3 separate regions of the Homo sapiens genome follow, and regions 1 and 3 are each linked to region 2. The links come from fine-mapping of genetic effects on gene expression. A gene starts in region 2. Each other region holds a variant in brackets. All regions are shown on one strand. Distances are from middle to middle.

Region 1 (8,000 bases), 100 kb after region 2:
AGTTGTGGGAGAGTGCTAAATGCTTTTGAGTGGGGCAGCCTGTGGAATGGGATCTCATACTGGCTCCTTAGACCTTGGGCCCATGAACTCAGTATGGAGCAGGACCTGCGATGTTCTGATGGATTATACCCACAGTGTATTTTGGCACATCTGCCAAAAGCTACAAACAACCCCCAACAACTACACACTATATCTTGTGAGAAGTGTCCTACCCAGGAGTCCTGAATGTGATCTGAGTATGCTCTAAGGCAGCCCCAGGAAAAGCAATTCAGTCCCTCTCTCTTTGCCTTTAGACCTGCAGGCTGGGACAATGAAAAGAAAATAGCTATTTTACATGAAAATTTTACAACCGTGAAGCCGGAAGATGCATATGAAGACTTTATTGTGAAACCTCCCGTGAGAAAGGTAGTCAAAGACAATTGCTTTAAGGGTTTAGGGCCGGGCGCGGTGGCTGATGCCTGTAATCCCAGCACTTTGGGAGGCCAAAGCGGGCAGATCACATGAGGTCAGGAGTTTGAGACCAGCCTGGCGAACATGGCAAAACCCCATCTCCACTAAAATACAAAAATTAGCTGGGTATGGTGGCAAGCGCCTGTAATCCCAGCTACTTGGGAGGCTGAGGCATGAGAATCACTTGAACCTGGGAGGCAGAGATTGCAGTGAACCCAGATTGCGCCACTGCACTCCAACCTGGCAACAGAGTGAGACTCCATATCAAAAAAAGAAAAGAAGAAAAAGGGTTTAGGTGTTTTTTAATGCAAAAAGAAGCCTATAAAGATGGGGCGTGGTGGCTGATTCCTGTAATCCCAGCAGTTGGGAGGCTGAGGCAGGAGAATTGCTTGAACCTGGGAGGCGGAGGTTGTAATGAGCCGAGATCGGGCCACTGTACTCCAGCCTGGGTGACAAGAGCGAGACTCCATCTCAAAAAAAAAAAAAAAAAAAAAACTATAAAGAAACAGGTCTTACACATTGTATAGTTTGTGGGGGGTAGTGGGGAGTAGTAAGTCCCAGGGCCTTTTTGTTGATCTTTAAATGAGGTCTGGCGTTATGTAAATGGCTCAGGGCTGGTGGGAAGGAGTGATGGAATGCTCACCTGGAGTTGGTGGTGTTTCCCATTAAGTCCTGCCAGTGCTGCCGTTGCCTCTGGATTACTGTTACTGGATCCCCTCATGTGATGTCCTGCAGACCCTGAGGTGTTTAGAACCTGCCAGACTTAAAAATGCCAGTTGGCTACATGCTGCGGCTGGTTTTGGGAGAGGTCTGTGCCAGGCTAGAAAAATATTACTCTGCAGTCTCAGTAGGGATCTCCCAGACCTGTGTTGAAGCCTGAGCCTCGGACTCTCCTTTCGGCATGAAGTTTGACAGTGGTTAGGAGTATTCTTGGCCTGTGGCCACAAACATGTATGTTGTTTCACAGCTGGTCCACGACAAAGAGTTGGCAGCAGAAGATGAGCAGGTGTTCCTAATGAAGCAACAGGTAAGAAGACCAGTGAGGTTAGAACAGAGGCCTTCTCATGCATGAAATGCCAGTCCCTAGGGTGGGGTTGGGGGTGTCTGCATGTGGGAAGTCACAAAGAGCTTGCAGTGGTAGAGGGGTTGAGACCAGGTCTCCTCATTCCCTCCTTATTTCTAGGATTAGTTGGGGATGGACCACCTCCTTAGGAGATCACCTACCTGCCTTGCAGACTCTCCTACAGGAATAGTAGGATTCGCATCTTTTAAGTGCTCTTTCTTTGGAAATGTGGTTTTCTGGCATAATACTTCCTATGTTGACAGTTAACCAAGTAACCTGACCACACTTCCATTATTTCATGTAGCCTCACACAGCCCTGTACATAAAGGCAGGTGATGCCTGTTTTGCAGATGAGGAGAGTAACTTCCCCAAGCTGACAGTTTAGAATGCAGACTTCCCATTTCTGTCACCCAGATTATTGTTAGATGTGTCCTGGGTCCACCTATCATCTGCCCAGTGGTACAGGCAGGTCAGCAGGAAGTTTTGATGGTTCTTTTTCCAACTGTTTCCTTCTTTTTCCATCTTTTTCCTTTCTGTCCTTTGCTTGCTTCCTTAGCTTCAAAACTGGTTACTTGGAGTATTTTTTTTCACCATATACCAAACGGCTCAATTAAAATTTTTTGGCATCTGTGGTATAAAACATAGGACTTAGTTGTTGTTAATAGTGCCCTCTAGTGGAGTACTTGGAGTAAGTTTTTCTCTAGACCTTCAGTGCTCTCTGCAGGCCTTGGTTAATAGCCAGTTTGTCCCTCTCTTTGCAGTCACTCCTTGCCAAGCAACCAGCCACTCCCACGAGAGCTTCTGTGAGTACCTTACACTAAACAGAGGGTCAAGGCCCAGTGTTGTGGGTGTCATCAAACTTTATACCATTATTTGTGAGAGCGTATATTTGTGTGGGTTTTGTATTTTCAGTGGGAATTTGGTTTCCCTAAAGACCCATGACCAGAAACATAAAAGAAACTCAAGAAGTTTCTGATGAAAGAATACAACTCTGGGAATTAGAGTGAGCTGGCTTTGTTATCTGGATGTCTTTCTCTCAGGAGAAAGAGAGCCAGAAAGGGCTTGAATTGAGAGCATACTCCCAGTCCTGTACCATAGCCTGTGAAAAATATCCCTCAGAAGCATGTCTCCATTTGTGGCATATGTATTTTTTGTTATTGTTATGCCTGTGTGTGACCTTAGCTGCTTTTGGACTTAGGAATCTCCTGCAAGAGGACCCTCTGGCTCTCCAAGGACCCAGGGTCGGGGAGGGCCAGCCAGTGTGCCTAGCTCCTCCCCAGGCACGTCAGTAAAAAAGCCGGACCCAAACATCAAAAGTATGTATTCCTCAAAAGTATGTCTCTTTGGAGAGTAGTTTAGTTTTAGACCTGAGCCCTGCAGGGGCTGGGTGGCTGAGTCTATAAGGTGGAGACTCATGGAAGCCAGGCTATTCTCTTCCCCGATAAGGGCTACTTTCCATTTCCCCCATTCCAGAGGAAGAAGGTCCATGGTAGGCAGAGACCAGGGCCTGTTCCTTTGTTAGAATTGGTAGCCCATGCACCTGGCTCTGTGTGAGACCTCACTTAGGCCCTGCTCATTCCTTCAGAGAGGAATGCAAAATAGTAACTTTATTTTTTTAGAGACAGGGTCTCACTCTGTCACCCAGCCTGTGGCACAGTGATACGATCATAGCACACTGCAGCCTCAAACTCCTGGGCTCAAGTGATCCTCCCATGTCAACTCTGGAGTAGCTGGGACTATAGGCGTGTGCCACCATGCCCAGCTAATTTTTAAAATTTTTATTGTAGGCCAGATGCAGTGGCTCATGCCTATAATCCTAGTACTCTGGGAGGCCAAGGTGGGAGGATAGCTTGAGCTAAAGAGTTCGAGACTAGCCCGGGCAACATAGTGAGACCTCGCCTCTACAGAATATTGAAA[A/C]ATTAGCTGGGCATGATGGTGCTTGCCTGTAGTCCCATCTACTCAAGTGGATGAAGCGGCAGGATTGCTTGGGCCCAGGGCATTGAGGCTGCAGTTGAGCTGTGATTATGCCACCATGCTCCAGCCAGGGTGACAGAGTGAGAGACTGTTTCAAAAAAAAAAAGGCCTGGCGTGGTGACTCAAGCCAGCACTTTGGGAGGCTGAGGCGGGCAGATCACTTGAGGGCAGGAGTTTGAGACCAGCCTGGCCAACATGGTGAAACCTTCTCTGTACAAAAATTAGCCAGGCGTGATGGTGGGCACCTGTAATCCCAGCTACTCGGGAGGCAGAGGCAGGAGAACGGCTTAATCCTGGGAGGTGGAGGTTGCAGTGAGCCGAGATTGTGCCATTGCACTCCAGCCTGGGTGACAGAGCAAGACTCCATTTCAAAAAAACACAAACAAAAATATTTTTTATAGAGGTAGGGGTCTCACTTACGTTGCCGAGGCTGATCTCAAGCTCCTAGCCTCAAGCAGTCCTACGCCCTTGGTCTCCCCAAGTGATGGGATTACAGGCGTGAGCCACCACCCCTGGCTGAGGGAGTCACTTTAAAATGTGTATTTTGAATCTGTAACTTTGTTTCTCATTATGTTTATATGATGACTGTCTATGAATTGTGGGGATTTTTCCCCCTTCACTTCTCTTGTCAAGCTCAATTACTTTTCAGATTAAGTAGCTTTTATCCCAGTAACTTAGTGATACTCACAGATACTGCCTGCAGTAAAATCATTAAAAAACAGTTTTATTTAATGCTTGTTTGATGGGTGTCTTCTATTCAGGATGTGAGCTTTTCACAGCAGGTTTGGAATGTTAAGTGCTCATGCAACTTTGAAAAACACTGTCTCATGGACGGGGAGGTGGTGTGGAGCACAGGTTATCTATTCTGCTCCCAAACAAGTGGGAAATGTAAACATGGTTCCACTTAGTAATCATGCTAAGTAGCCTCAGCAGTAGCAGTGTAAAGGCATCGTAGCGAATGAATGTTATCAATATCCTAGGAAGCTGATAGCCACAAGTGGCTAATGCCAAGCTGAGAACTAGGGTGTTTAATTTTAAGTCTTCCAGTTTATATGATGCTTTTTTTTCTCTTTAATTTTCCTTAGATAATGCAGCAAGTGAAGGGGTGTTGGCCAGCTTCTTCAACAGTCTGTTGAGTAAAAAGACAGGCTCTCCTGGAAGTCCTGGTGCTGGTGGGGTGCAGAGCACAGCCAAGAAGTCAGGTACAGAAGGGCCCTGGAGACTTGTGACTCTTGTGGTTGAGTAGTGCTGCAAGGATGGAGAGGCAGACACCTGCCCTGCAGACCCTGCAGTGTCCTGAATAGCCAAGCAAGGAAGCAGGTCTTCATTTCCTACTGAGCAGTGTGCCGTGCTTTCAGTGGGATTGCCTTACTACCATGCAGGTTTCCTTGGCACATTGAGAGTGGGATTTGTGTACATTTGGGTTCTCGGGAACTGGGTGTTGGGTGAGTTGAGGTATAGCCTAAATTACATATGTGGCCCTGTTGTAGAACCTCTCCAGTAGAAGTCATGGTCCATGGAGGGTGTACCAGTGACTTTTTTTTTCTTTTTCCAAGGTGGAGTTTTGCTCTTGTTGCCCAGGCTGGAGTGCAATGACGTGATCTCACTGCAACCTCCGCCTCCCAGGTTCAAGCGATTCTCCTGTCTCAGCCTCCCGAGTAGCTGGGATTACAGGCGCGTGCCATCATGCCCAGCTAATTTTTTGTATTTTTAGTAGAGATGTGGTTTCATCATGTTGGCCAGGCTGGTCTTGGAATTCCTGACCCCAGGTGATCCCTCCATCTTGGCCTCCCAAAGTGCTGGGATTACAGGTGTGAGCCACCGTCTGCGGCTGACTTTTTTTTTTTTTTTGATAGAGATGGAGTCTTGCTCTGTCGCCCAGGCTGGAGTACAGTGGCATGATCTCAACTCACTGCCAACCTCCACCACCCGGGTTCAAGCAATTCTCTTGCCTCAGCCTCCCGAGTAGCTGGGACTACAGGCACGCGCCACCACATCCGGCTAATTTTTTTGTATTTTTAGTAGAGACGGTTTTTCGCCATGTTGGCCAGGCTGTTCTCGAACTCCTGACCTCAGGTGATCCACCTGCCTTGGCCTCCCAAAGTGCTGGGATTAGTGCACCTGGCCTACTTTTAATTTTTTAAAATTATACTAAAGCCTTAGTTGTTCTGAACCAGTGATGTTTTATTTGTTCTATTTTTTTTTCTGTGATGCTTTGTAAGGATTTTTGTTTACTCCACTGCCCCCAGTTTGGCTGTGAACCCTCACTGTCTCACTGCAGAGTCAAGGCCTCCTCCTCCCTGAAGCTCCCTACTTGTCACATACACACCTCTGTGGCAGCCACCCACCTGTCCTTCCATGTAAGCAGGTAGGGCGGGTCTATGTCTTGGAGATCTCTGAAACAAAACAAAACATGTTTTCCTTGGGAATTACACATTTTCCCAAGAAGCTGGAGGACATTTTAAGGGGTTTTTGCTTTCCATTTTCCATTGGCTATAAGGTATGTTTATACATTGTTTTCCCTAATTGATGTCTTCAGGGCAGAGGAGACCCTCAGGAAATCACTTGGGGCAGCCTGGGCCTCCAGTGGCTCCTATGTTCTAAGAAACTCAGAGTCTGGTCTAGTGGCCCAGACTCTGGGCTGGTAGTATTCCCTTCTGGGAAATAGGTGTCTATTTCTAGGCCTGTTCGTGTCTGACAGCAGAAAAATACAAGTATAGATTTTGTGCAGGACTGAACTATCTTATTCTTATTGAAACATAATGTTTTCAGGCTATCCATTTGAGTCAGTCTAGAATGTTATAAACAAAAACACCTATCTGGGGCAAAGAAAATAGTTTCCTTCGTTGCTGAAATTCAGGTACTACCTCTAGGAAGATGGTGGTGAGAGTGCACAGGGGTCAGGGTTGGGTGGTGAGAGGGTTTTCAGAAAGGTTCTTGTATTTGGCACAAAGGCACCCCCCGCCAGAGAGCAGTCAAGTCACTCCCTTGGAGTTGGAGGAAGCACTGGCCTGTGACTTTTGGGATTAGGATGTGCCGAGTTGGGGTCTCCTCACCACTGCAGTAGAAAAGGGCTTTCCTCATTCTTATTAAGGTTACTGTCATCAAGTGATTATAGAAGGCGTATAATTTTAAATGCTCCTTTAAAAAAAATTGTTTCCTCTTCTCACATCATTACTTTGCTTTTTTGCTTTTTTTTTTTTTCAGGACAAAAGACTGTGTTGTCAAATGTTCAGGAAGAACTGGATAGAATGACTCGAAAGCCAGACTCTATGGTAACAAACTCTTCAACAGAAAATGAAGCCTGAACCTCCTTAAAAAGTGCATATGTCGAATGACCAAATAACTATGTATATTGATCTGCTAAGACCAGGATTTTTCTGATATGGCACATGCTATCAGTTTTTTGGGGCAGGGGAGATGAACTTTAAAAAAAAAAAAAAAACTTCATTGGCTTGTCCGAGTGTGAAATGCACATTTAGGAAGGTTACATGTCAGACCCTTTGTTAAGGATAACCCTTGGACTCTGGGGCATGTGGCTCTTTTGTGGGAGGCAAGCACATCTGGGCTTCTTGTGGAGGGGAAGGTAGAGTGAAAGAAAGAGGGCCCACTTTCTAACAGGGTGGAGCAAATGAGACCAAGAAATCATTGGTAAGATGATGGTTAGTCTGACCAGTTTCATGTTAGTAAATTCACTTGTTCTTGGGAAGCAGATTAAGTAGCAGAAAGTCCAGGAAAGAAAGACCAGAAGGAGTAATGAGACAAGTGATGGTGGGGAAGCTGAATGTTGAGGGAGGTGGAGGAAGGAGGAGATGAGCAGTGTCAGTAAATACTGTGCATTCAGTAGAAGTTGAAGAATCATTGTTAGAAGCATTTCCAAACAAAACACTAAGCAAAATGGGAATTAGGCTTATTTTGAATGCATCTTTAACTTACGAAAGATGTACTAATTGTGGGGGTGCCTGAGTCAGGCGGAGCTGACCCAGGGGTGGGAACGATGGCAGCTGCCCAGGACCCATGTGCTTGGCCCAGGCTATGTCCTCGTGAGAGGTACTGGGGTCCACGGATATGTGTTGTGGGGCAGACAGTCACTGTGGGATGTCTTCAAAGTCAGCAGTTACAGAATTAGTTTACTTTGAATTTTGTTGTCTAAATAGCTCCTGCTTTATTTTTTAAATTAAATTTTTTGTTTTTACTATCACAGGCTGGCCTAACTAATACAAAATAGGTGATGAACCTCTGGTTTTACCATAATGCAATGTGCCACGGAAAGTTTGGGGGAGGTTTTTAATGTAATTGCACTCTGGTTAATTGGCTCGTACCAAGCCCTGCCTTATGACTTGTGGAAAGCTTCAAGGAGTTCCACTGATGCAAAAGGGTCTTTTCCTAGCTTCCTGGTCTGATCAGTGCTATGAGATGGACAGATAAGTGTGAATGTTTTATACAGAAAATGGAAATGATACATTTCTCTTGTTAGGTGTTTTCATAAAATGTAGCATTTTTTTTCTTATGG
Region 2 (8,020 bases):
TGCTCAGAAAGCCAGGGTAGGATCAAGCATGTATCAGAATCACCTGGATGATTTGTTAAAACAGTTTCCTGGGCCTCACTCTACAGTTTCTGATTCAGCAAGTATGGATAAGGTCCAAGAATTTGTGTTTCTTTTTTTTTCAGAGACAAGGTTTCGCCATGTCACCCAGCCTGGTTTCGAGCTCCTGGGCTCAAGCAATCCTCCTGCCTTAGCCTCCTAAGTGTTGGGATTACCGGAGTGAACCACCTTACCTGGCTTTCTTTTTTTTTTTTTAATACTTAATTTTTTTTAAGAGAGGAATGTCTCACTCTGTTGCCCAGGTTGGAGTGCAGTGGCGAGATCATAGCTCACTGCAACCACAAACTCCTGGGCTCAAGTGATCCTCCCACCTTAGCCTTCCAGGTAGCTAGTACTACAGGCATACACCACCATGCCTGGCTAATTTTTAATTTTTTTTTTTCTTTTTGTAGAGACAGGGTCTTGCTATGTTGCTCAGGCTAGTCTCAAACTCCTGGCCTCAAGGAATCCTCCTGCCTTGGCCTCCCAAAGTGCTGGAATTACAGTCATGAACCACTGTACCCAGCCAAGAATTTGCCTTTCTTTTTTTTTTTTTTTTTTTTTTTGAGACGGAGTCTCACTCTGTCGCCCAGGCTGGAGTGCAGTGGCGGGATCTCGGCTCACTGCAAGCTCCACCTTCCTGGTTCACGCCATTCTCCTGCCTCAGCCTCCCGAGTAGCTGGGACTAGAGGCGACCACCACTGCGCCCAGCTAATTTTTTGTATTTTTAGTAGAGACGGGGTTTCACCGTGGTCTCGATCTCCTGACCTCATGATCCACCCGCCTCTGCCTCCCAAAGTGCTGGGATTACAGGCGTAAGCCACCGCGCCTGGCCGAATTTGCCTTTCTAACAAGTTTCCAAAGTGATGTTGATGCCGCTGGTCCAGGACCACACTTTGAAAACCAATAGCTTAAATGAATTACACCATGGCTTCCTGGTCTGATATATCTGGTTTCCACCCTCCACAACAGGGAGAACTCACCAGTGGGCCCTGAATTCTTTCATGTCAGGGCCGTCAAAAGAACTGTGTCTGATCAGCCTCCTCTGCTCCAGCATAGGCACCTTTACATGGTTTTACGGGTTGAATTATTATTATTATTTTCACTTTCATCTCTACAGAAAATAATCTAAAAATTAGCCAGGTGTGGTGGTGGGTGCCTGTAGTCTCAGCTGCTCAGGAGGCTGAAGTGGGAGGATTGCTTGAACCTAGGAGGTTGTGGCTACAGTGAGCCATGATTATACCACTGCACTCCAGCTCAGGTGAAAGAATGAGATCCTGTCCCCCACTGCTGCCAAAAAATAGTAACCAGACTCCAAAAGCATAGGCAACAAAAGCAAAAATAGACAAATGGGTTTATACCAAATTAAAAAGCTTCTGCACAGCAAAGGAAATGACAGAATAAAGAGACAACCCACAGATTGAGAAAAAAATATTTACAAAATATACATTAGATCAGGGACTAATATCCAAAATGTACAAACTCAGACCGCTCAATAACAATAAAACAAATAACCCTATTAAAAATGGGCAGGGCCAGGTGCAGTGGCTCATGCCTGTAGTCCCAGTACTTTGAGGGGCTGAGGCAGGAGGACTGCTTCAACCCAGGAGTTTGAGACAAGTCTGGGCAATATAGTGTGACCCCACCTCTAAAAAAATAATGATAATATTAATACAAAGCTTCTGGGCTGAATTATGTCCTCCTCAGAAGTTACTGAAGTCCTAACCTGCCAGTACCCGTGAAGGTGATCTTATTTGGAAACAGGGTCTCTGCAAGTGTAAACCAGTTAAGATGAAGTCATCAGTGTGAGCCCTGATCCAATGTGACTTGTGTCCTTAAGAGAGGAAACACAGAGACATGAGGGGAGAATGCCATGTGATGATGGAGGCAGAGACTGAAGTGCTGTGGCTGCTAGCCAAAGATTGCCAGCAAACCCCCAGAAGCCAAGAAGAAGCGGACGGATTCTCCCCTACAGGTTTCAGAAGGAGCATAGTCCCACCCGTGCTTTGATTGTAGACTTCCAGCCTCCAGAACTGTGAGACAATAAATTTCTCTTGTTTTAAGTCACCCAGTTTGTGGTTCTTTGTTACGACATTCCTAGGAAACTGATACCCTGAGGTATCATTTTACAGACAACACCAACACAAACCTTTTCAAAATCATTTACTTCTTCACGGGCAATATGACTAGCCTTCTACCAAATTTGTGGGTGTTTCCTTTCATGAAGTCCATAGGTATGAGAAACTAAGCAGTGAACTCTCATCTGCTGCCTTTTGACCTTCCTACTTTCCCGGAGTGTATTTTATTATCCCTTATATTTTACCTGTCCACTTGGAGAAGGAAATGTGACAGCACAAACACATGATGAGCTGGGAAAGCCTCACACCTCTGTTTCCCATCAGTGTGTTCCATGGGAGCTGGGTAAGGGCAAGGGAAGGTATGGGAAGGTGTACTCTCACCCTAGTCCAGGAGACCATGCCCAGGGCAAAGTGCAATTCATCATCACTGCATCATTACCATCAAACTGTGCCATCTCTCTGGTCCCCATCCTAGGGGATTGGGGGTGGGGATCTGTGTTCATTTTCACCTTATTTCAGGCAGTTATTAACCTGAAGGTGCCTGTAGGGTCTGCGAGATAGCAGGGAAGGAGTCTTCGTCTCCCTCACAGATGGTCACCTTGTCTTCAGCACCACCACCCCCCTCCCAATTGTTCTCATGGGGTAACCTCCTTCCTTGGCCTCCCATCCCCACAGGACAGCCGTTCTCTTCCTGAAAGGAGGGTCTTTTCAGGAAGTGGAGGACTTTAAATTCCTCCTTGGATCTATGTTCACAGTCTTCAGAACCCAGCCTGTCCCAACTGTCTCTCAAACCTTCTCAACCACTCCCTATCCTTCACCTGACCAAACTTACTCTAGCACCTACAGCTTGCTATGCCTTCTTTGCTTCCTAGAGATGGCACCTGCTGTTCCTTATGCTTAAAACACCCTTCCAGCTGGGCACAGTGGATCATGCCTATAATCTCAGCACATTGGGAGGCCAAGGCGGGCAGATCGCTTGAGCCCAGGAGTTTGAGACCAGCCTGGGCCATGACGAAACCCCATCTCTACAAAAAATGTACAAAAATTAGCCAGGTGTGGTGGTGCATGCCTGTAGTCCCAGCTACTTGGGAGGCTGAGGTGAGAGGATTGCTGCCTGGGAGGTTGAAGCTGCAGTGAATTGAGATCACACCACCGAACTCCAGTCTGAGCAATAGAGAGAGACCCTGTCTCAAACAAAACAAAACAAAACAAAACAAAACACTCCTCCATCTCCAAACCACATGAAACATTCTTGGAGAGGGGGACTGGGGAGGTTCTTCTGTGCACCCCTGAGCACCCTGCTTCCCTCTATCTAGAGGAAGGCCACATTGTCTGGTAAGTGCTTGTTTGCTGTCCCTCTTCCTTCATGAGACTAAACTCTCCAAGAACAGAGCCCTGGACTTGTCTGCATCTGCAGCAGGGAGCCCCTAGCTTTGTGATTCAAAATAGGCTTGTGGGCTTTTCATGAGAGGAAGAAATGGGTGAAAAATAATGATCATCAAAATGAAAGTTATTATTCATGCAAGATTTGGGGGGAGTCTGGCCTCCTGTATTCAAAATCTCATTTAAGGTCAAAAGACACTTGGGACCCATTTATCCCCACTGCACAGGTGAGCACACTGAGGATTTGAGAGGTAAAGAGTAGATCTCACAGCCAGTTAAGTGGTCGAAATACAAGTATGCCTGATTCCAATGCCCCAGTCGCCCCCAATTACTGCATGGACAGAGGGCAAATTGGCAGGCTAGCGGGTCTGCCTTTCTGGCCGATGGGGACCAAGAGCCCCAGACCCGCTCGGGTACCAGGGCCGCTTAGGCCCCGGCGTACCGGCGACGCGTGCGCAGTGCAGTGCGGCGCCCCCTGCAGGCAGCGCGCAGGAGACGGTAGCGGCGAAGGGGCGCTCAGTGCGCCTGCGCGCTTGTGGAGCTGGTGGCGGCGCTCCGCAGGGGCTCGGCTGTTTTCCGCGCGGCAGGCGCGGCCATGGCGCAGCTGGGAAAGCTGCTCAAGGAGCAGAAGTACGACCGGCAGCTGAGGTGAGCCGAGGCTCACCGAGCCGAGGGCGGGCCGGCGGGCTTTCCAGCATTCGGGCCGGGCCTAAGGGCGCGGGCGGCGCGGTCGGGCCTTCCTCAGGCCTTCTTCCAGGCTGGGCCGGGCCGTGCGGGGCGCGGGAAGCCGGCGCTCGGAGCTCCCGCCCTGGGCCAAAGGTGCTCCGCGAGGGCTGGGACCCCTTCCCCCGCCACGCGGTGTGCAGTTCGGGGGACGGGGTCCCCAGCGCCAGCCGGGTAGCTAAGGCGGCTGCCGGCCCCGTTGCGCCCAGGCTCCTCGTTTTCCGAATGGGGAGGCCCGGGGCGCACCGCATCCCGGCCGCGAGGGCGGCACAGAGGGTTAGGTTTTGTTCTCAGCCAGCGCTGTCCAATGGAAATAAAATGCTAGTCTCATGTGAGCCGCAAATGTAATTATAAATTTTCTAGTAACCACACTAAAGGTAAAATGAAACAGATGAAATTGATTTTTAAATACAATTTAACCCAATATGTCCAAAACATTACTATTTCAACACAATATAAAAAGTTCTTGAGATATTTTACTTAAATTTTTATTTTTATTTTTATTTTTGTTTTTGTAGAAACGAGGTTTTTGCCACCTTTCCCCAAGCTGGTCATGAGTATTTTCCTTTTTAAAACTGTCTTGGAGGACCGGCACGGTGGCTCACGCCTGTAATCCCAGCACTTTGGGAGGCCGAAGCGGGCGGATCACCTGAGGTCAGGAGTTCGAGACCAGCCTGGGCAACATGGTGAAACCCTGTTTCTATTTAAAAATTCAGAAATTAGCTGGGCGTGGTGGTGCGCGCCTGTAATCCCAGTTACTCTGGAGGCTGAGGCTGGAGAATCGGTTGAATCCAGGAGGTGTAGGTTTCAGGGAGCCGAGATCGTGCCACTGCACTCCAGCCTGGGTGACAGAGCGAGACTCCGTCAAAAAAGCCCCCCCAAAACTATCGTATAAATATTGTATTTTACACTTACCAGCACATCTCAGTTAACACTAGCCTCATTGCTTGTGCTCAGTAGTACATGTGGCTAGCAGCTACCTTAATGGACAGTGCAGGCCTAAGCCATCAGGAGGGTCCTTGGGTACTTCCCCACCCTTGCCTTTTCTCCTTGCACTACCCATTCCTTATTTATTGAGCGTCTTCTGTGTCTTGAGGCTGTGGAGATAACAAAGCTGCTCAGCTTTCCTCCTTCCTGGAGCCTCTGAGACAACAGAAGTTATATGTCCCCAAGGACTGGAGCTTCTGTTTGCGCCACCAGCCTAGTGCTGTAGTAGAGGCTTTAGGCACTTAGTTCTGAGAGTACCCTTGAAAGCAACCATTTCCTGTGCTTTACAGTTGGAGAAACAGAGTCTTGGAGAAGTTAGGTAATTTGCCCAGAGTTCCCCATATCTTTGAGCCAGGATGTAAACTAAGGCTCTTCTGGCTTTTTCGGAGGTACTCAGTTACATCCTGCTTCCAAGCTTTTCGGAGAAGAAACAGGGTAACAGTCCTTATAACCAACTTAGGTTTTCTTGTAAATTCTTGGAGTTCTTGTGTTTCTAATGCAGGTATAACTGTACATGACAGAGCTGAGAAGATAGTTGAGGTTACTAAGCAACTCTAACAAAAGAGGGTTTTTGCTGAGGGCATTCCATTTAAGTCCCAAACTTTACTTTCATAGTGAGAACTGGTTTTGAAGTGTCAAAGGGAAGCAGTTAGAAGCAAAATGCAGCAGTCAATAAGCCCCTCCTTACTTCACGTTAGTTGGGCCAGCAAGATAGTAGAGAGGACTGATTCATTTGGCCTATTCTTGAAACATGTTACTTAGAGACACACCAGGATTCTTTTTTTTTTTTTTTTCAGGGACAAGGTCTCACTTTGTGACCCAGGCTAGAGTGCAGTGGCTAGAGTGCAGTGGCAAGAACACTGCTCACTGCAGCCTCAACTTCCTGGGCTCTAACGATCCTCCTGCCTCAGCCTCTTGAGTAGCTGGGACTACAGGCATGTGCCACCATGCTTAGCTAACTGTTTTAGAGATGGGGGTTTGCCCAGGCTGGTCTCGTACCTCTGCACTCAAGTGATCCTCCTGCCTCAGCCTCCCAAAGTGCTAGGATTACAGGCATGAGCCACAGTGCCTGGCCTCAGTATTCTTTTTGTTTTATTTTTGAGGTGGGTCTCAGTATGTTACCCAGGCTGGAGTGCAGTGGCTGTTCGCAGGTATGATTATTGGCACACCACAGCCTTGATCTCCTGGGCTGGAGTGATCCTCCTGCCTCAGTCTCCCAAGCAGCTGGGACTACAGGCACACACACTATCTCACCCTGCTTGAGATGCACCAGTATTTTTTTTTTTTTTTTTTTGAGACGGAGTCTCACTGTGTTGCGCAGGCTGGAGTGCAGTGGCGCGGTCTTGGCTCACTGCAATCTCCGCCTCCTGCGTTCATGCGATTCTCATGCCTCAGCCTCCCTAGTAGCTGGGATTATAGGTGCGTGCCACTGTGCCTGGTTAATTTTTGTATTTTTAGTAGAGACGGGGTTTCACTATGTTGGCCAGCCTGGTCTCAAACTCCTGACCTCAGGTGATCTGCCTGCCTCCGCCTCCCAAAGTGCTGGGATTACAGGCGTGAGCCACTGCGCCCAGCCAAGATGCACCAGTATTCTTAAATTTACTCTCCAACTATCTAAGCATCCATCAACCATATATGTCAGGTGTCTTCTACGTGCCATACTTTGATGGAGAAAACAGGCGTTTACGGTCCATCTGGTTCTTCTAGGCGATTCCTCCATACATTTGACAGCTGTCTGGGCCCTTATGGAGCATACAGTGGAGTGGAAAGATGGATGCTCAGCAAACAAAAACAAATGAAGCCAGGTACAGTGGCTTGTGCCTGTAGTCCCAGCAACTCTAGAGGCTGAGGCGAGAGAAATGCTTGAACCCAGGAGTTCAAGACCAGTCTGGATAACATAGTAAGACCCTGTATCAAAAACAAAAACAAAAAACAAGGCAGTTGCTTGACATGCTCTGGAGGACATACTGACTACATAATAAGGGGTAATCTGCTTTAAATCAGGTAACAGGGAAGGCACATTAATCACTCTATTAGAATGTTCATTGGGTAATATACTTTAAAGCACTCCTGTAGAAGTTGATGTGAGGCTTTTCAGATGATAATTCAGTTTTCTTGGTAAAGCTTTTGCAGAAGTCACAGTAATAAGCCCTATGTCGAGATCTTAAATGCATCTAACTTAACTTAAATGCATCTAATATAATTTTTTTTTTTTTTGAGACGGAGTCTCGCTCTGTCGCCCAGGCTGGAGTGCAGTGGCGCAATCTCGGCTCACTTCAAGCTCCGCCTCCTGGGTTCACGCCATTCTTCTGCCTCAGCCTCCGAGTAGGTGGGACTACAGGCGCCTGCCACCACGCCCAGCTAATTTTTTGTATTTTTTAGTAGAGACAGGGTTTCACCATGTTAGTCACGATGGTCTCGATCTCCTGACCTCGTGATCCGCCTGCCTTGGCCTCCCAAAGTGTTGGGATTACAGGTGTGAGCCACTGCACCTGGCACATCTAACATAATTTAAGAATAAATGAAATAGGGCTGGGCACGGTGGCTCACACCTGTAATCCCAGCATTTTGGGAGGCCAAGTGAGCTGAGATCATGCCACTACACTCCAGCCTGGGTGACAGAGCAAGACTCTGTCTCAAAACAAAACAAAGAATAAATGAAATAGAAAACAGATGAGGGTTTAAATCCAAAGACGCTTTTTAAATGTTTGTTTGTTTGTTTTGAGACAGAGTGTCGCTCTTGTGCCCAGGCTGATAAGGGGCTGGAAGACCAAGTTTCTGTTTCTAATTTG
Region 3 (8,020 bases), 74 kb before region 2:
GAGGGCGATGGGTGGTTGGGACCACAGCCTCCAAATAAACACCTTTGTCCCCATGGTGCCCCTAGCTCTGAAAAAGGAAGCCCCCAACTCTCCTAGTCATTATGCGCCTGCCCTTTGATCATAGTCATTGTCATCATCATTGATAGTAGCATCTACGGTCACATGATTGCACATTGACTGTGTGGCAGGGACTATTGCCAGGAATCCTCCCAGCAACCCTGTGAGGTAGATCCTGGTATCTCCCCATTTTGCAGATGAGGTCATTGAGGCTCAGAGAGGTTAAGTGACTGGTCCAAGGTTACACAGTCAGGTTGTGACAGAACCCAGGTCTTTCTAGCCTAATTGCATCAGTCTAAGCCACCCCTTCTATCCCCTTTATTTCTTTAGCCCCTCAAATTTTCTCCTTGCTGGTTTTCCTTGCTGGTTCTAGCACACTGCTGTGATGAGCCTTTCTCTTGGAGGTCCATGGAGTTGGGATCCAACTTACTGGTTCCCCGATGTCCCCAAGAGAAGGGGACTTTGGAGGCTGAGTATACTGGGTCAGCCTCAGAGGGGTAGGGGCCAAGCCGGCCGAGGAGTCAAGCTTCTCCAGGCACCACCACAGAGTCATACCCAGCCCAGCCTCAGGATGCTGTCCAGGAAACTCATCTCTTCATTAATCCAATGCCAATCACAGGAAGTCCCTCGTGATGAACAAGTCCCACAGCCCCTTCTGAGGCCTGATACATCCCTCTTGGGCCCCACAGGAATCTTCCTCATCCTCATTTTCACCCACTGGACCATGTCAAGGAAGAAGGACCCGGATCAACCAGCAGACAGCGTGCCCCTGAAGGCGACTGTCTGAATGGCCCAGGCAGCTCTAGCTGGGAGCTTGGCCTCTGGCTCCATCTGAGTCCCCTGGGAGAGAGCCCAGCACCCAAGATCCAGCAGGGGACAGGACAGAGTAGAAGCCCCTCCATCTGCCCTGGGGTGGAGGCACCATCACCATCACCAGGCATGTCTGCAGAGCCTGGACACCAACTTTATGGACTGCCCATGGGAGTGCTCCAAATGTCAGGGTGTTTGCCCAATAATAAAGCCCCAGAGAACTGGGCTGGGCCCTATGGGATTGGTATGTCTGTGTCTCAGTGTCTATGTGTGCATGTGTGTGTGTGAGTGTGCACACACCTGCTTTTTCATCCCTTCCCCATCTCCTGCCACATAGAAAGGGTCTGGGCTTGAAGGACAAGACTGAGGTCCCCTGCAGGGAAGGACATGAAGACATCATATGGGCTATTGGTGAGAGCTTGGGGCCACAGCAAAGTGGGTCATTTTTGTGGGCATCCAGAGCCCACCAGCTACAGACCCTGGATGGGTGAACTCTATGCAGGTGATGGTCAAGGAGGGGTGTCTTTGAGGGTGTCATCTCTGTGTTTTCCTGGATGTCATCTTTGCTATGGGAAGGCAAAACCTTGTGAGTCCCCATCTTCTGCTCATGTGTGAGCACCTTGTGCTCCTGTGCATGAGTCACCTACACCCAGGGATGGGCAGAGGCCCCTCAGTCTCTGCAGGGCCCTGGGCAGGATGGTGAGGCCCCATGGGTCAGGAGCATGTGAGGTGAGGCTGGGGATGCGTCCTTCTGCCCCAGTGTAGGCTCCAAGGCACTGCTGTGTTTCACACACAGGCTGGTGAGTGCATGAGGGCATCTGCAGGAAATCAGAGAAGGGGAGTCACTTAGATGGAGACAATCGGAGCGGGACAGGCACCCCCGTGGCTTACTCTGGAGCTGCCCCTCTCTGAGGTGAACCCCTGACCCTGGCCCAAGATTAAGCCATGTCCTGATGCTCTGCTGAGCCCGGCTGAGCCCTGCTAAGTAGGAGCTGAGCTCTCCAGATTGACCTCTAATCCCTGACCTGTGGGTGACTCAAGATACATGCTGATCCCCATGTCCCCTTCTCAACCATCTCTGGGGAGTCAGGGTGGGACTTGCTGTCCCAAGCACCATGAGCTGATGATGGTCAATCACGGGAAAGGGAGAAAAACAACCTCTGTGGGGCCCAGGCCCTATTTTTAGGAGATAATCTCTCCACTATTGGCAGATTCTGTGGGATAGGGGCCAAGCCCAGCTAAGAGAGACAGGGCGGGCAACCTGGCAAAGACTCAGCCAGGATCCCCAGCCCAGGGGTTGGACTCTGAGGCTGGCCCCTGTCATCCTGGCTCAGGTACCCCCACTGGAGGCTCTGCTGGCTACCCTCATCCAGGCAGGGATTCCCTGCCCCTCTGCCAGGATATCCTCTGCTCAGCCTGCATGCACTCAGAAGTCTTCAGGGTGCAAATCTTCTGGAGGTAGTGTCTCATCTAATCTTCCTATCAACCTACGAGGGTGGATTATTGGCCCCATTTTGCAGTGGAGGATCTTGAAGATCAGGGAGGTTAAGGGCCGTAGCTGGGAGTCTTAGAACCACGGTACATGGCATAACTATCTGTCCAAGGTCCGTGTTACCTCTCTGGAAATGTCCACAGCGTTCAGGTGGTCTCTGCTCCCTCAAGATTTCCCAGCAGGGCCTTAGAGATCACCCAGATCAGCTCTTTCTTGTAAAGATGGAAAGGTGAATTGCAAAGAGAAGGAGGGAAATTTCTAGGTTCATACAGCCATAAGATGCGTCACTTGAGCTATAACCACCACTTTCTGGCCCTTATCCTAGATGGATAAGTAGGGAGATAGGAGGGTGCATGGGTGAATGAATAAGTGGATGGCTAGGCAGATGCATGGCTGGATGGATTGGTGGGTAGATGGATGGGTGGGTTGGTAATCGGGTGGATGGGAGACCCACAGACGAAAGGGTGGATGACAGGATACCAGGGCAAATGAAGGCATCTGCTCTAGTTTGAGGGCTTCTTCCTCGGGCCTCCAGGCCCCGGACCACTCTTGGTTGTCACTGCTGGAGCTGACCGCCAGGTCCACAAGCCCCTTCTCCACAGACAAGGGCCCAGGTTCCTTGGGCATCTGGGGACATAAAACTCTCCTGTATCCTCAGCCCCATTCTGCAGAGGAAGGTGGCCAGGTGCGGTGGCTCATGCCTGTAATCCTGGCACTTTGGGAGGCCAGGGTGAGAGGATTGCTTGAAGCCAGGAGTTCAAGGCCAGCCTAGGCAACAAAGTGAAACTCTGTCTCTACATAAACAGAAAGAGAGAAAGGTGAGGATCAGAGAGGGGGTGTGGCTTATCCTGGGTCGCAGAGGAAGAGAGACACAAAGCTGATTGGTCTCTAGGCTTGGCAGTGGGCCAGTGAATGCCTGTAGAGATTAATGCTAGTGAGGCAGGCTTCATTCTGTAGGCAGGGCCTCGCCCCTGCTAGAGCAAGGTGGGGGCCAACCAATAGCTCTATGGGTAGAAGAGCATGTGTTGTGCTTATCCATGC[G/A]ATGTGTTCCCAGGAAAACTGCTTCACCTCTCAGAGCCTTGGCTTACTTGGTGATACAAGTTTTTGTCGTTAGGAAAACTACATGAGATAATCCCTGCACAATGCATTTAGCACAGTGCCAGGCACTGCAGGGCTCAGTAAATGTGACTTTCCCCAGTGCATGGATTGTTGAGGGACCTACATCCCCGCACTTACACACACTCCCTAGAGGTCCCAAGAGGCCCAGGCTTTTGGGAGGGAGTTTGGAGAGGGGCCCCAGCTCCAGCCCCAAAGCAAGAGTGCAAGACACCCCTTCCAGCCCCAGCTCCCTTCCAGTGCCCAGGTGCTCTTAGGGTCTGTGATGTCCAGGGTCTCACAGGGTTCTGGGCTGGAGCTGGAGGGGGTTGAGGGGTGGGCCCCAGCAGAGGCCTCATGCTCCCCTTCTCCCAGGCCCCTTCCAGAGGCACTGGGCCAGATCAAAGGGACCCAGCACGGAGGATCAGGAGGCAGCTTGGAAAGAATGTAAACATGAGGATATTTTTAAACTTTTTCCAGCCCCAGCGATTAGGGCTCTTGAAGCCGGAGGCCCAGAGGTCAGTCTGGCCCTCACCCACAAAGAAAGCAACAGTCTCGGGCCCTCAGAGACCCCACCCCACCCACATCTACCTACACCCACCCAGGACTCTAGCTGGGGCCTCGGGGCAGAAGTTCTTCCTAGGGTGTCACCTCCAGACACACTGCTGCGGCGGGAGGATGCGTTTCTAATGTGAGGGCCTCAGCGGCATGGGACCCTGACTTAAGGGGTGGTGGGGGCCTACCAGACAGGGCTGATGTTGGAAGACTGAGCTTGGGAGGCTTCTTAGTGGCCCAGTCACTCTACCAGGCGTGTGTGCACACGTGTGTCTGTGGGTGTATAAGTATATGCTGCAGTCTGGTCTGTGTGATGCACGCATCGGAATGTGTGAGTGTGCGAGGAGCTTGCCTCGGCCCACCCTTCCTCGTTCTTCCCTAGCATCCCTGACCTCCTCCCTGGGACCCCTTTGGTAGGTGGGTGACATGGGGGGGGTACAAAAGAGGAAGAGTCGCCTGAGAACAGGGAGGACGCGAGGAGAGAAAGGCGCCAGAGCCGGGGGCGAGGAGGCTGGGGGTACCAGGTCCGGGGCCATGCAATGAGTCAGGCTGTGAGAGCTGCAGGAGTCACTGATGTGGGGACTGGGACTCGGCTCCCTCCATCACCCCCATGTGTCACAGTTGGAGATGAGGCTCCCTGGATCTCCCGATTCCGGTGTCACAACTACGCTCACCATGGGTTCCATGACAACAGCCTCTTACCTTGTAGTCACGCAGCTACCCTCACACCCTCACAGGAGTGTCACAGGACTCATGCAGGGCCCCCCCAACACCACCCAGTGGTCGTATCCCAGTGACCCCTATCTGTGAGACATGAGGACCCTCACTGTCTTCACATCCCCACTGACCAGAAAGCCAGAATTCACAGGGGCACTCAGAAGCCAGACTAGACTGTGGTCACCAGGACAACGGGGTACCCAGCCCCTGGAGAGGCCTCGGCTGGCTATCTCATTCTCCAGGGGCTGCTGTGCCACCTTGCCCTGCTTGTGGGCCCTGAGAGGGACAATGTCCAGCTCCATGTCATACAGCTCCCCAGTGAAGGGCAGGGCTCAGGCCCCAGCTCAGGATCAATGTGGCGATGGCATCCCCTCCAGATTCCCCCTGCTGAGGCAGCAGCCACAAGGGATGAGGCTTGGAGTTTTACCCTAAGATGTGGTAGGATTTTGGGCCCAGGATGATGGGGGAGCTAGGTGGGGCTGGAACTGATGGAAAGGGGAACCTGGAGACTCATCCTCAGTCTGAGGCTGAGGCTGGACACCTAAAGACATGGTTTGTGTCCCTGTGGGTGCCCACTCACTGGGGCTGTTGCTATTCTTATCCACCTCCCAGTGGCGGTGGCAGTGGTAGTGGCAGTAGGGTCAGAGATAGCTGCTACGTGGGAGAGAGTCATGAGCACCAGCCCTTTATCTGACACATTCCCTGGAAACTTGGCAGGGCCTGCCAGCCTCTGGGGGCCTGGGCGGGGCAGGGCGTGAGGTGGTCACAGGGATAGGATGAGGGGGCTGGGCTGGGCTCAGTGCCGATGAGGACCCGCTCCAGCTGCCTCTCCCACAGCCAGGCAAGGTCCCCTCAGAATTGGCCTGGGGGGTTCTAGTGAGATTTCTTCCCATGCGGAGACTAAGACCACAGGTCACCCTCAGCTCCTACTCACCCTCAGTCCAACCCAGAACACCCCACCGTTGGCCCCATCTCTGAGCTTTGGGCACTCCAGAGAACAATGTATTGGCTTCCTCAGTGATGTGGCTTCTTCCACGGGAGAGCACTGAACTGTGAGCCACAGTGGCCCCATCTGGTGGCTGTCCTGCCTACTTCCCAGCCTCGTGATCTTGGGCAAGTCAATTCCCATCTCTGAGCCTCAATTTCCTCATCCCTCTCCTGGGCTGTGGTGGAGATGACAGGGTCCAGTGGTCAGGAAGCAGGCTGACGGCTGCAAAATGTGAGTGTGTGTGCACGTGAGCACTTGGGTGGGGGGGCCAGAGTGGGGAGAGGGAGGCATATGGGTCTCCCACTTTGGGAGACTCCCGCCCTATGGATTTTCCACTGGCATGTCGGCACCCTCTCCCCTAAAATAGGCTCTACGAGCCGTGTGCGACAGAGCCCAGACTGAGGGGCCTTTTTTTAGCTGGCCTTTGATTGTCAGCTCTCGAGCAGCTGCTATTTTGAGCCCCAACGCCTAGAGGAGTAGGGCCAAGTGGGGGCTGAGGTTAGCTCAGTGGGCCTGGCTGGCTCCCCGAAGGCATCCCCAAGGGGGCTGGCCATCCCATCTCACACCCTGCATTGCTGGCAAGGAGAGCACGACATCTCCTATAGATGGGGCCTAAGGGCTCCTCTGTCTACCTCTGCGGAAGCTGCAGACCTGGCAGAAAACAACCACATTTACAGAGCACACCCCACAGGCCACTGCCCACCCACCCCCACCCAGAGAAGAGCATGCTGTGGGGATTAACTGAGATAATACAAGCAAAGCCCTTACTTAGCACAGAGGCTGGCACATAATTGGCTCTCAAAAAATGGAACAGCTTCTGTTATTATTGTCATTACAGCTGCAGTCATTCTTGGTTTTGTTGTTATAGTTATGTTTTTACCAGATTTCTTTCCAGTCTTTTTTCTATGCATTTATTTTATGTTACTGGGTTCGGGACATGACCCTTCCCACCCCATCCCCATACATGTGTACACGCCTAGTTTCAGCAGAAAGCAGCCCCTCTCAGTCTGCTGGGGTGCCCTCTATGTCTCTGTGCTCCACTCCATACAGGAATCCCCCCTTCTATATAAGGCTTTTGGGGTTGACCCTCGAGATGGCACTTGACCTTTCAGAGTGGATGTAGTTGTGCCCACAGCTTCTGTGATTTCTTCAAATGCCATCAGCCACTGCCCCATAGGATTCCAGGCCCCCAATTCTGAATGTCCAGTTCTAGATGCTAGATCCCTGGCTGGCCACTGTACCTGGGTTCTAGAGCCCTCTGACTGGAACCTGAGGAAATGGGCTTGGTCCACAGCTAGATGTGAGAAAGTGGCATTGCCACTGCATAAGGCGTGGCAATGGATCCTAAGGACAAATGTAGATGCTCTGGGACTCTGGTTATGGGGTGTGTGTGTGTGTGTGTGTGTGTGTGTGTGTGTGTGCAGGGGTATGGGCTGCTGAGAAGAGGGGGATGAGGGTAGGAAGCCAAGTTCTGGGAAGTGGCTGGGGCAGGCCCTCCCCTTCCCTATTGGGGTCACTTCCCAGCAGGGCAGCAAGATCAGCTGGGGTTGGGGGGTCATATGTTCCATCCTTGTCCCAAACAGTTACTGCACAAGGTGAGACTTCCTTGTTACCCGAAGGACAAAAATAGGTCCCAGGTGATGGGCCACGATCCATGCCCAGAACCACAAGGGTTATTCTGAGTGGCAGGCACAGGGCCAGGCCTGGCCTCAGTCAGGTGGACCTGAGCTGGCAGTGGCATCCTCAGCCTGCGGGCTTGCTCTGTCCATTCAGGGACCCTAAATGTAGGTCGGGGGCTGGAACTGCGTGCAGGCTGACGCTCGATCGGTAGGGGCTTGAGTCCCAACTCCGCTATGTGACCTTGGGTAAGCCACTTGGCATCTCCGAGCATCTACCTCCTTCCCAAATGATGGGAACCCTGATCCCTGCCTCTCAGGGTGGGTGAGAGAATTTAGTGAGGCTGACAGATGGCACTCAATAGATGCACAAATCCCTGCTCATCTGTCCTGGAGTCTAGGCCCAGGGGTCCAGAGAGGGTAAGGGCCTTGCCTGAATTGCCTAGCAGCAGAAAGGTCCCTTCTCCTCCAACTCTGAAGAAGCAAGAGCCAGGCACAAGAGCACATTTCTGGGAGGGCATATAGGGATTTTCCAGGAACAGCTCCATCCAACTGGAGAATTCCATTCCCAGCCCTGCTGCCCAGGGCCCAGGCTAAGGAGGAGACACTCCAGCTCACTCTGGTTCTGTCCAGTTCCTGCTCCTCGCCGGCAGAGCCCAGGCAGAGTGCCCCACACCCTGTTCTCTTGCT

The links.
Region 1: its variant is fine-mapped to the expression of NAE1 in whole blood (INTERVAL, PIP 0.93).
Region 3: its variant is fine-mapped to the expression of NAE1 in lymphoblastoid cells (GTEx, PIP 0.93). The same link has a PIP of 0.9 or more in esophagus mucosa.

The regions. Positions count from the first base shown.
Region 1 is chr16:66,722,517-66,730,516 of GRCh38, reverse strand. It overlaps DYNC1LI2 (dynein cytoplasmic 1 light intermediate chain 2), which reads left to right. Exons shown (of 13, transcript NM_006141.3): 8 at 294-405; 9 at 1,418-1,477; 10 at 2,275-2,316; 11 at 2,712-2,829; 12 at 4,573-4,689; 13 at 6,695-8,000. The coding sequence ends at 6,795. Among named protein-coding and RNA genes, the nearest start is that of DYNC1LI2, 25 kb to the left of the region's middle. The variant A/C (reference allele first, on the strand shown) is at 3,431.
Region 2 is chr16:66,826,993-66,835,012 of GRCh38, reverse strand. It overlaps NAE1 (NEDD8 activating enzyme E1 subunit 1), which reads left to right and starts at 4,037. Exons shown (of 20, transcript NM_003905.4): 1 at 4,037-4,166. The coding sequence starts at 4,114. RefSeq lists silencers at 4,077-4,301, 4,283-4,342, 4,353-4,562 and an enhancer at 3,813-4,313.
Region 3 is chr16:66,901,216-66,909,235 of GRCh38, reverse strand. CDH16 (cadherin 16) reads left to right here. Exons shown (of 18, transcript NM_004062.4): 18 at 747-1,114. The coding sequence ends at 844. LOC107984821 (a long non-coding RNA gene) reads left to right here and starts at 3,976. Exons shown (of 3, transcript XR_001752244.2): 1 at 3,976-4,145. RefSeq lists an enhancer at 3,579-6,063. The variant G/A (reference allele first, on the strand shown) is at 3,401.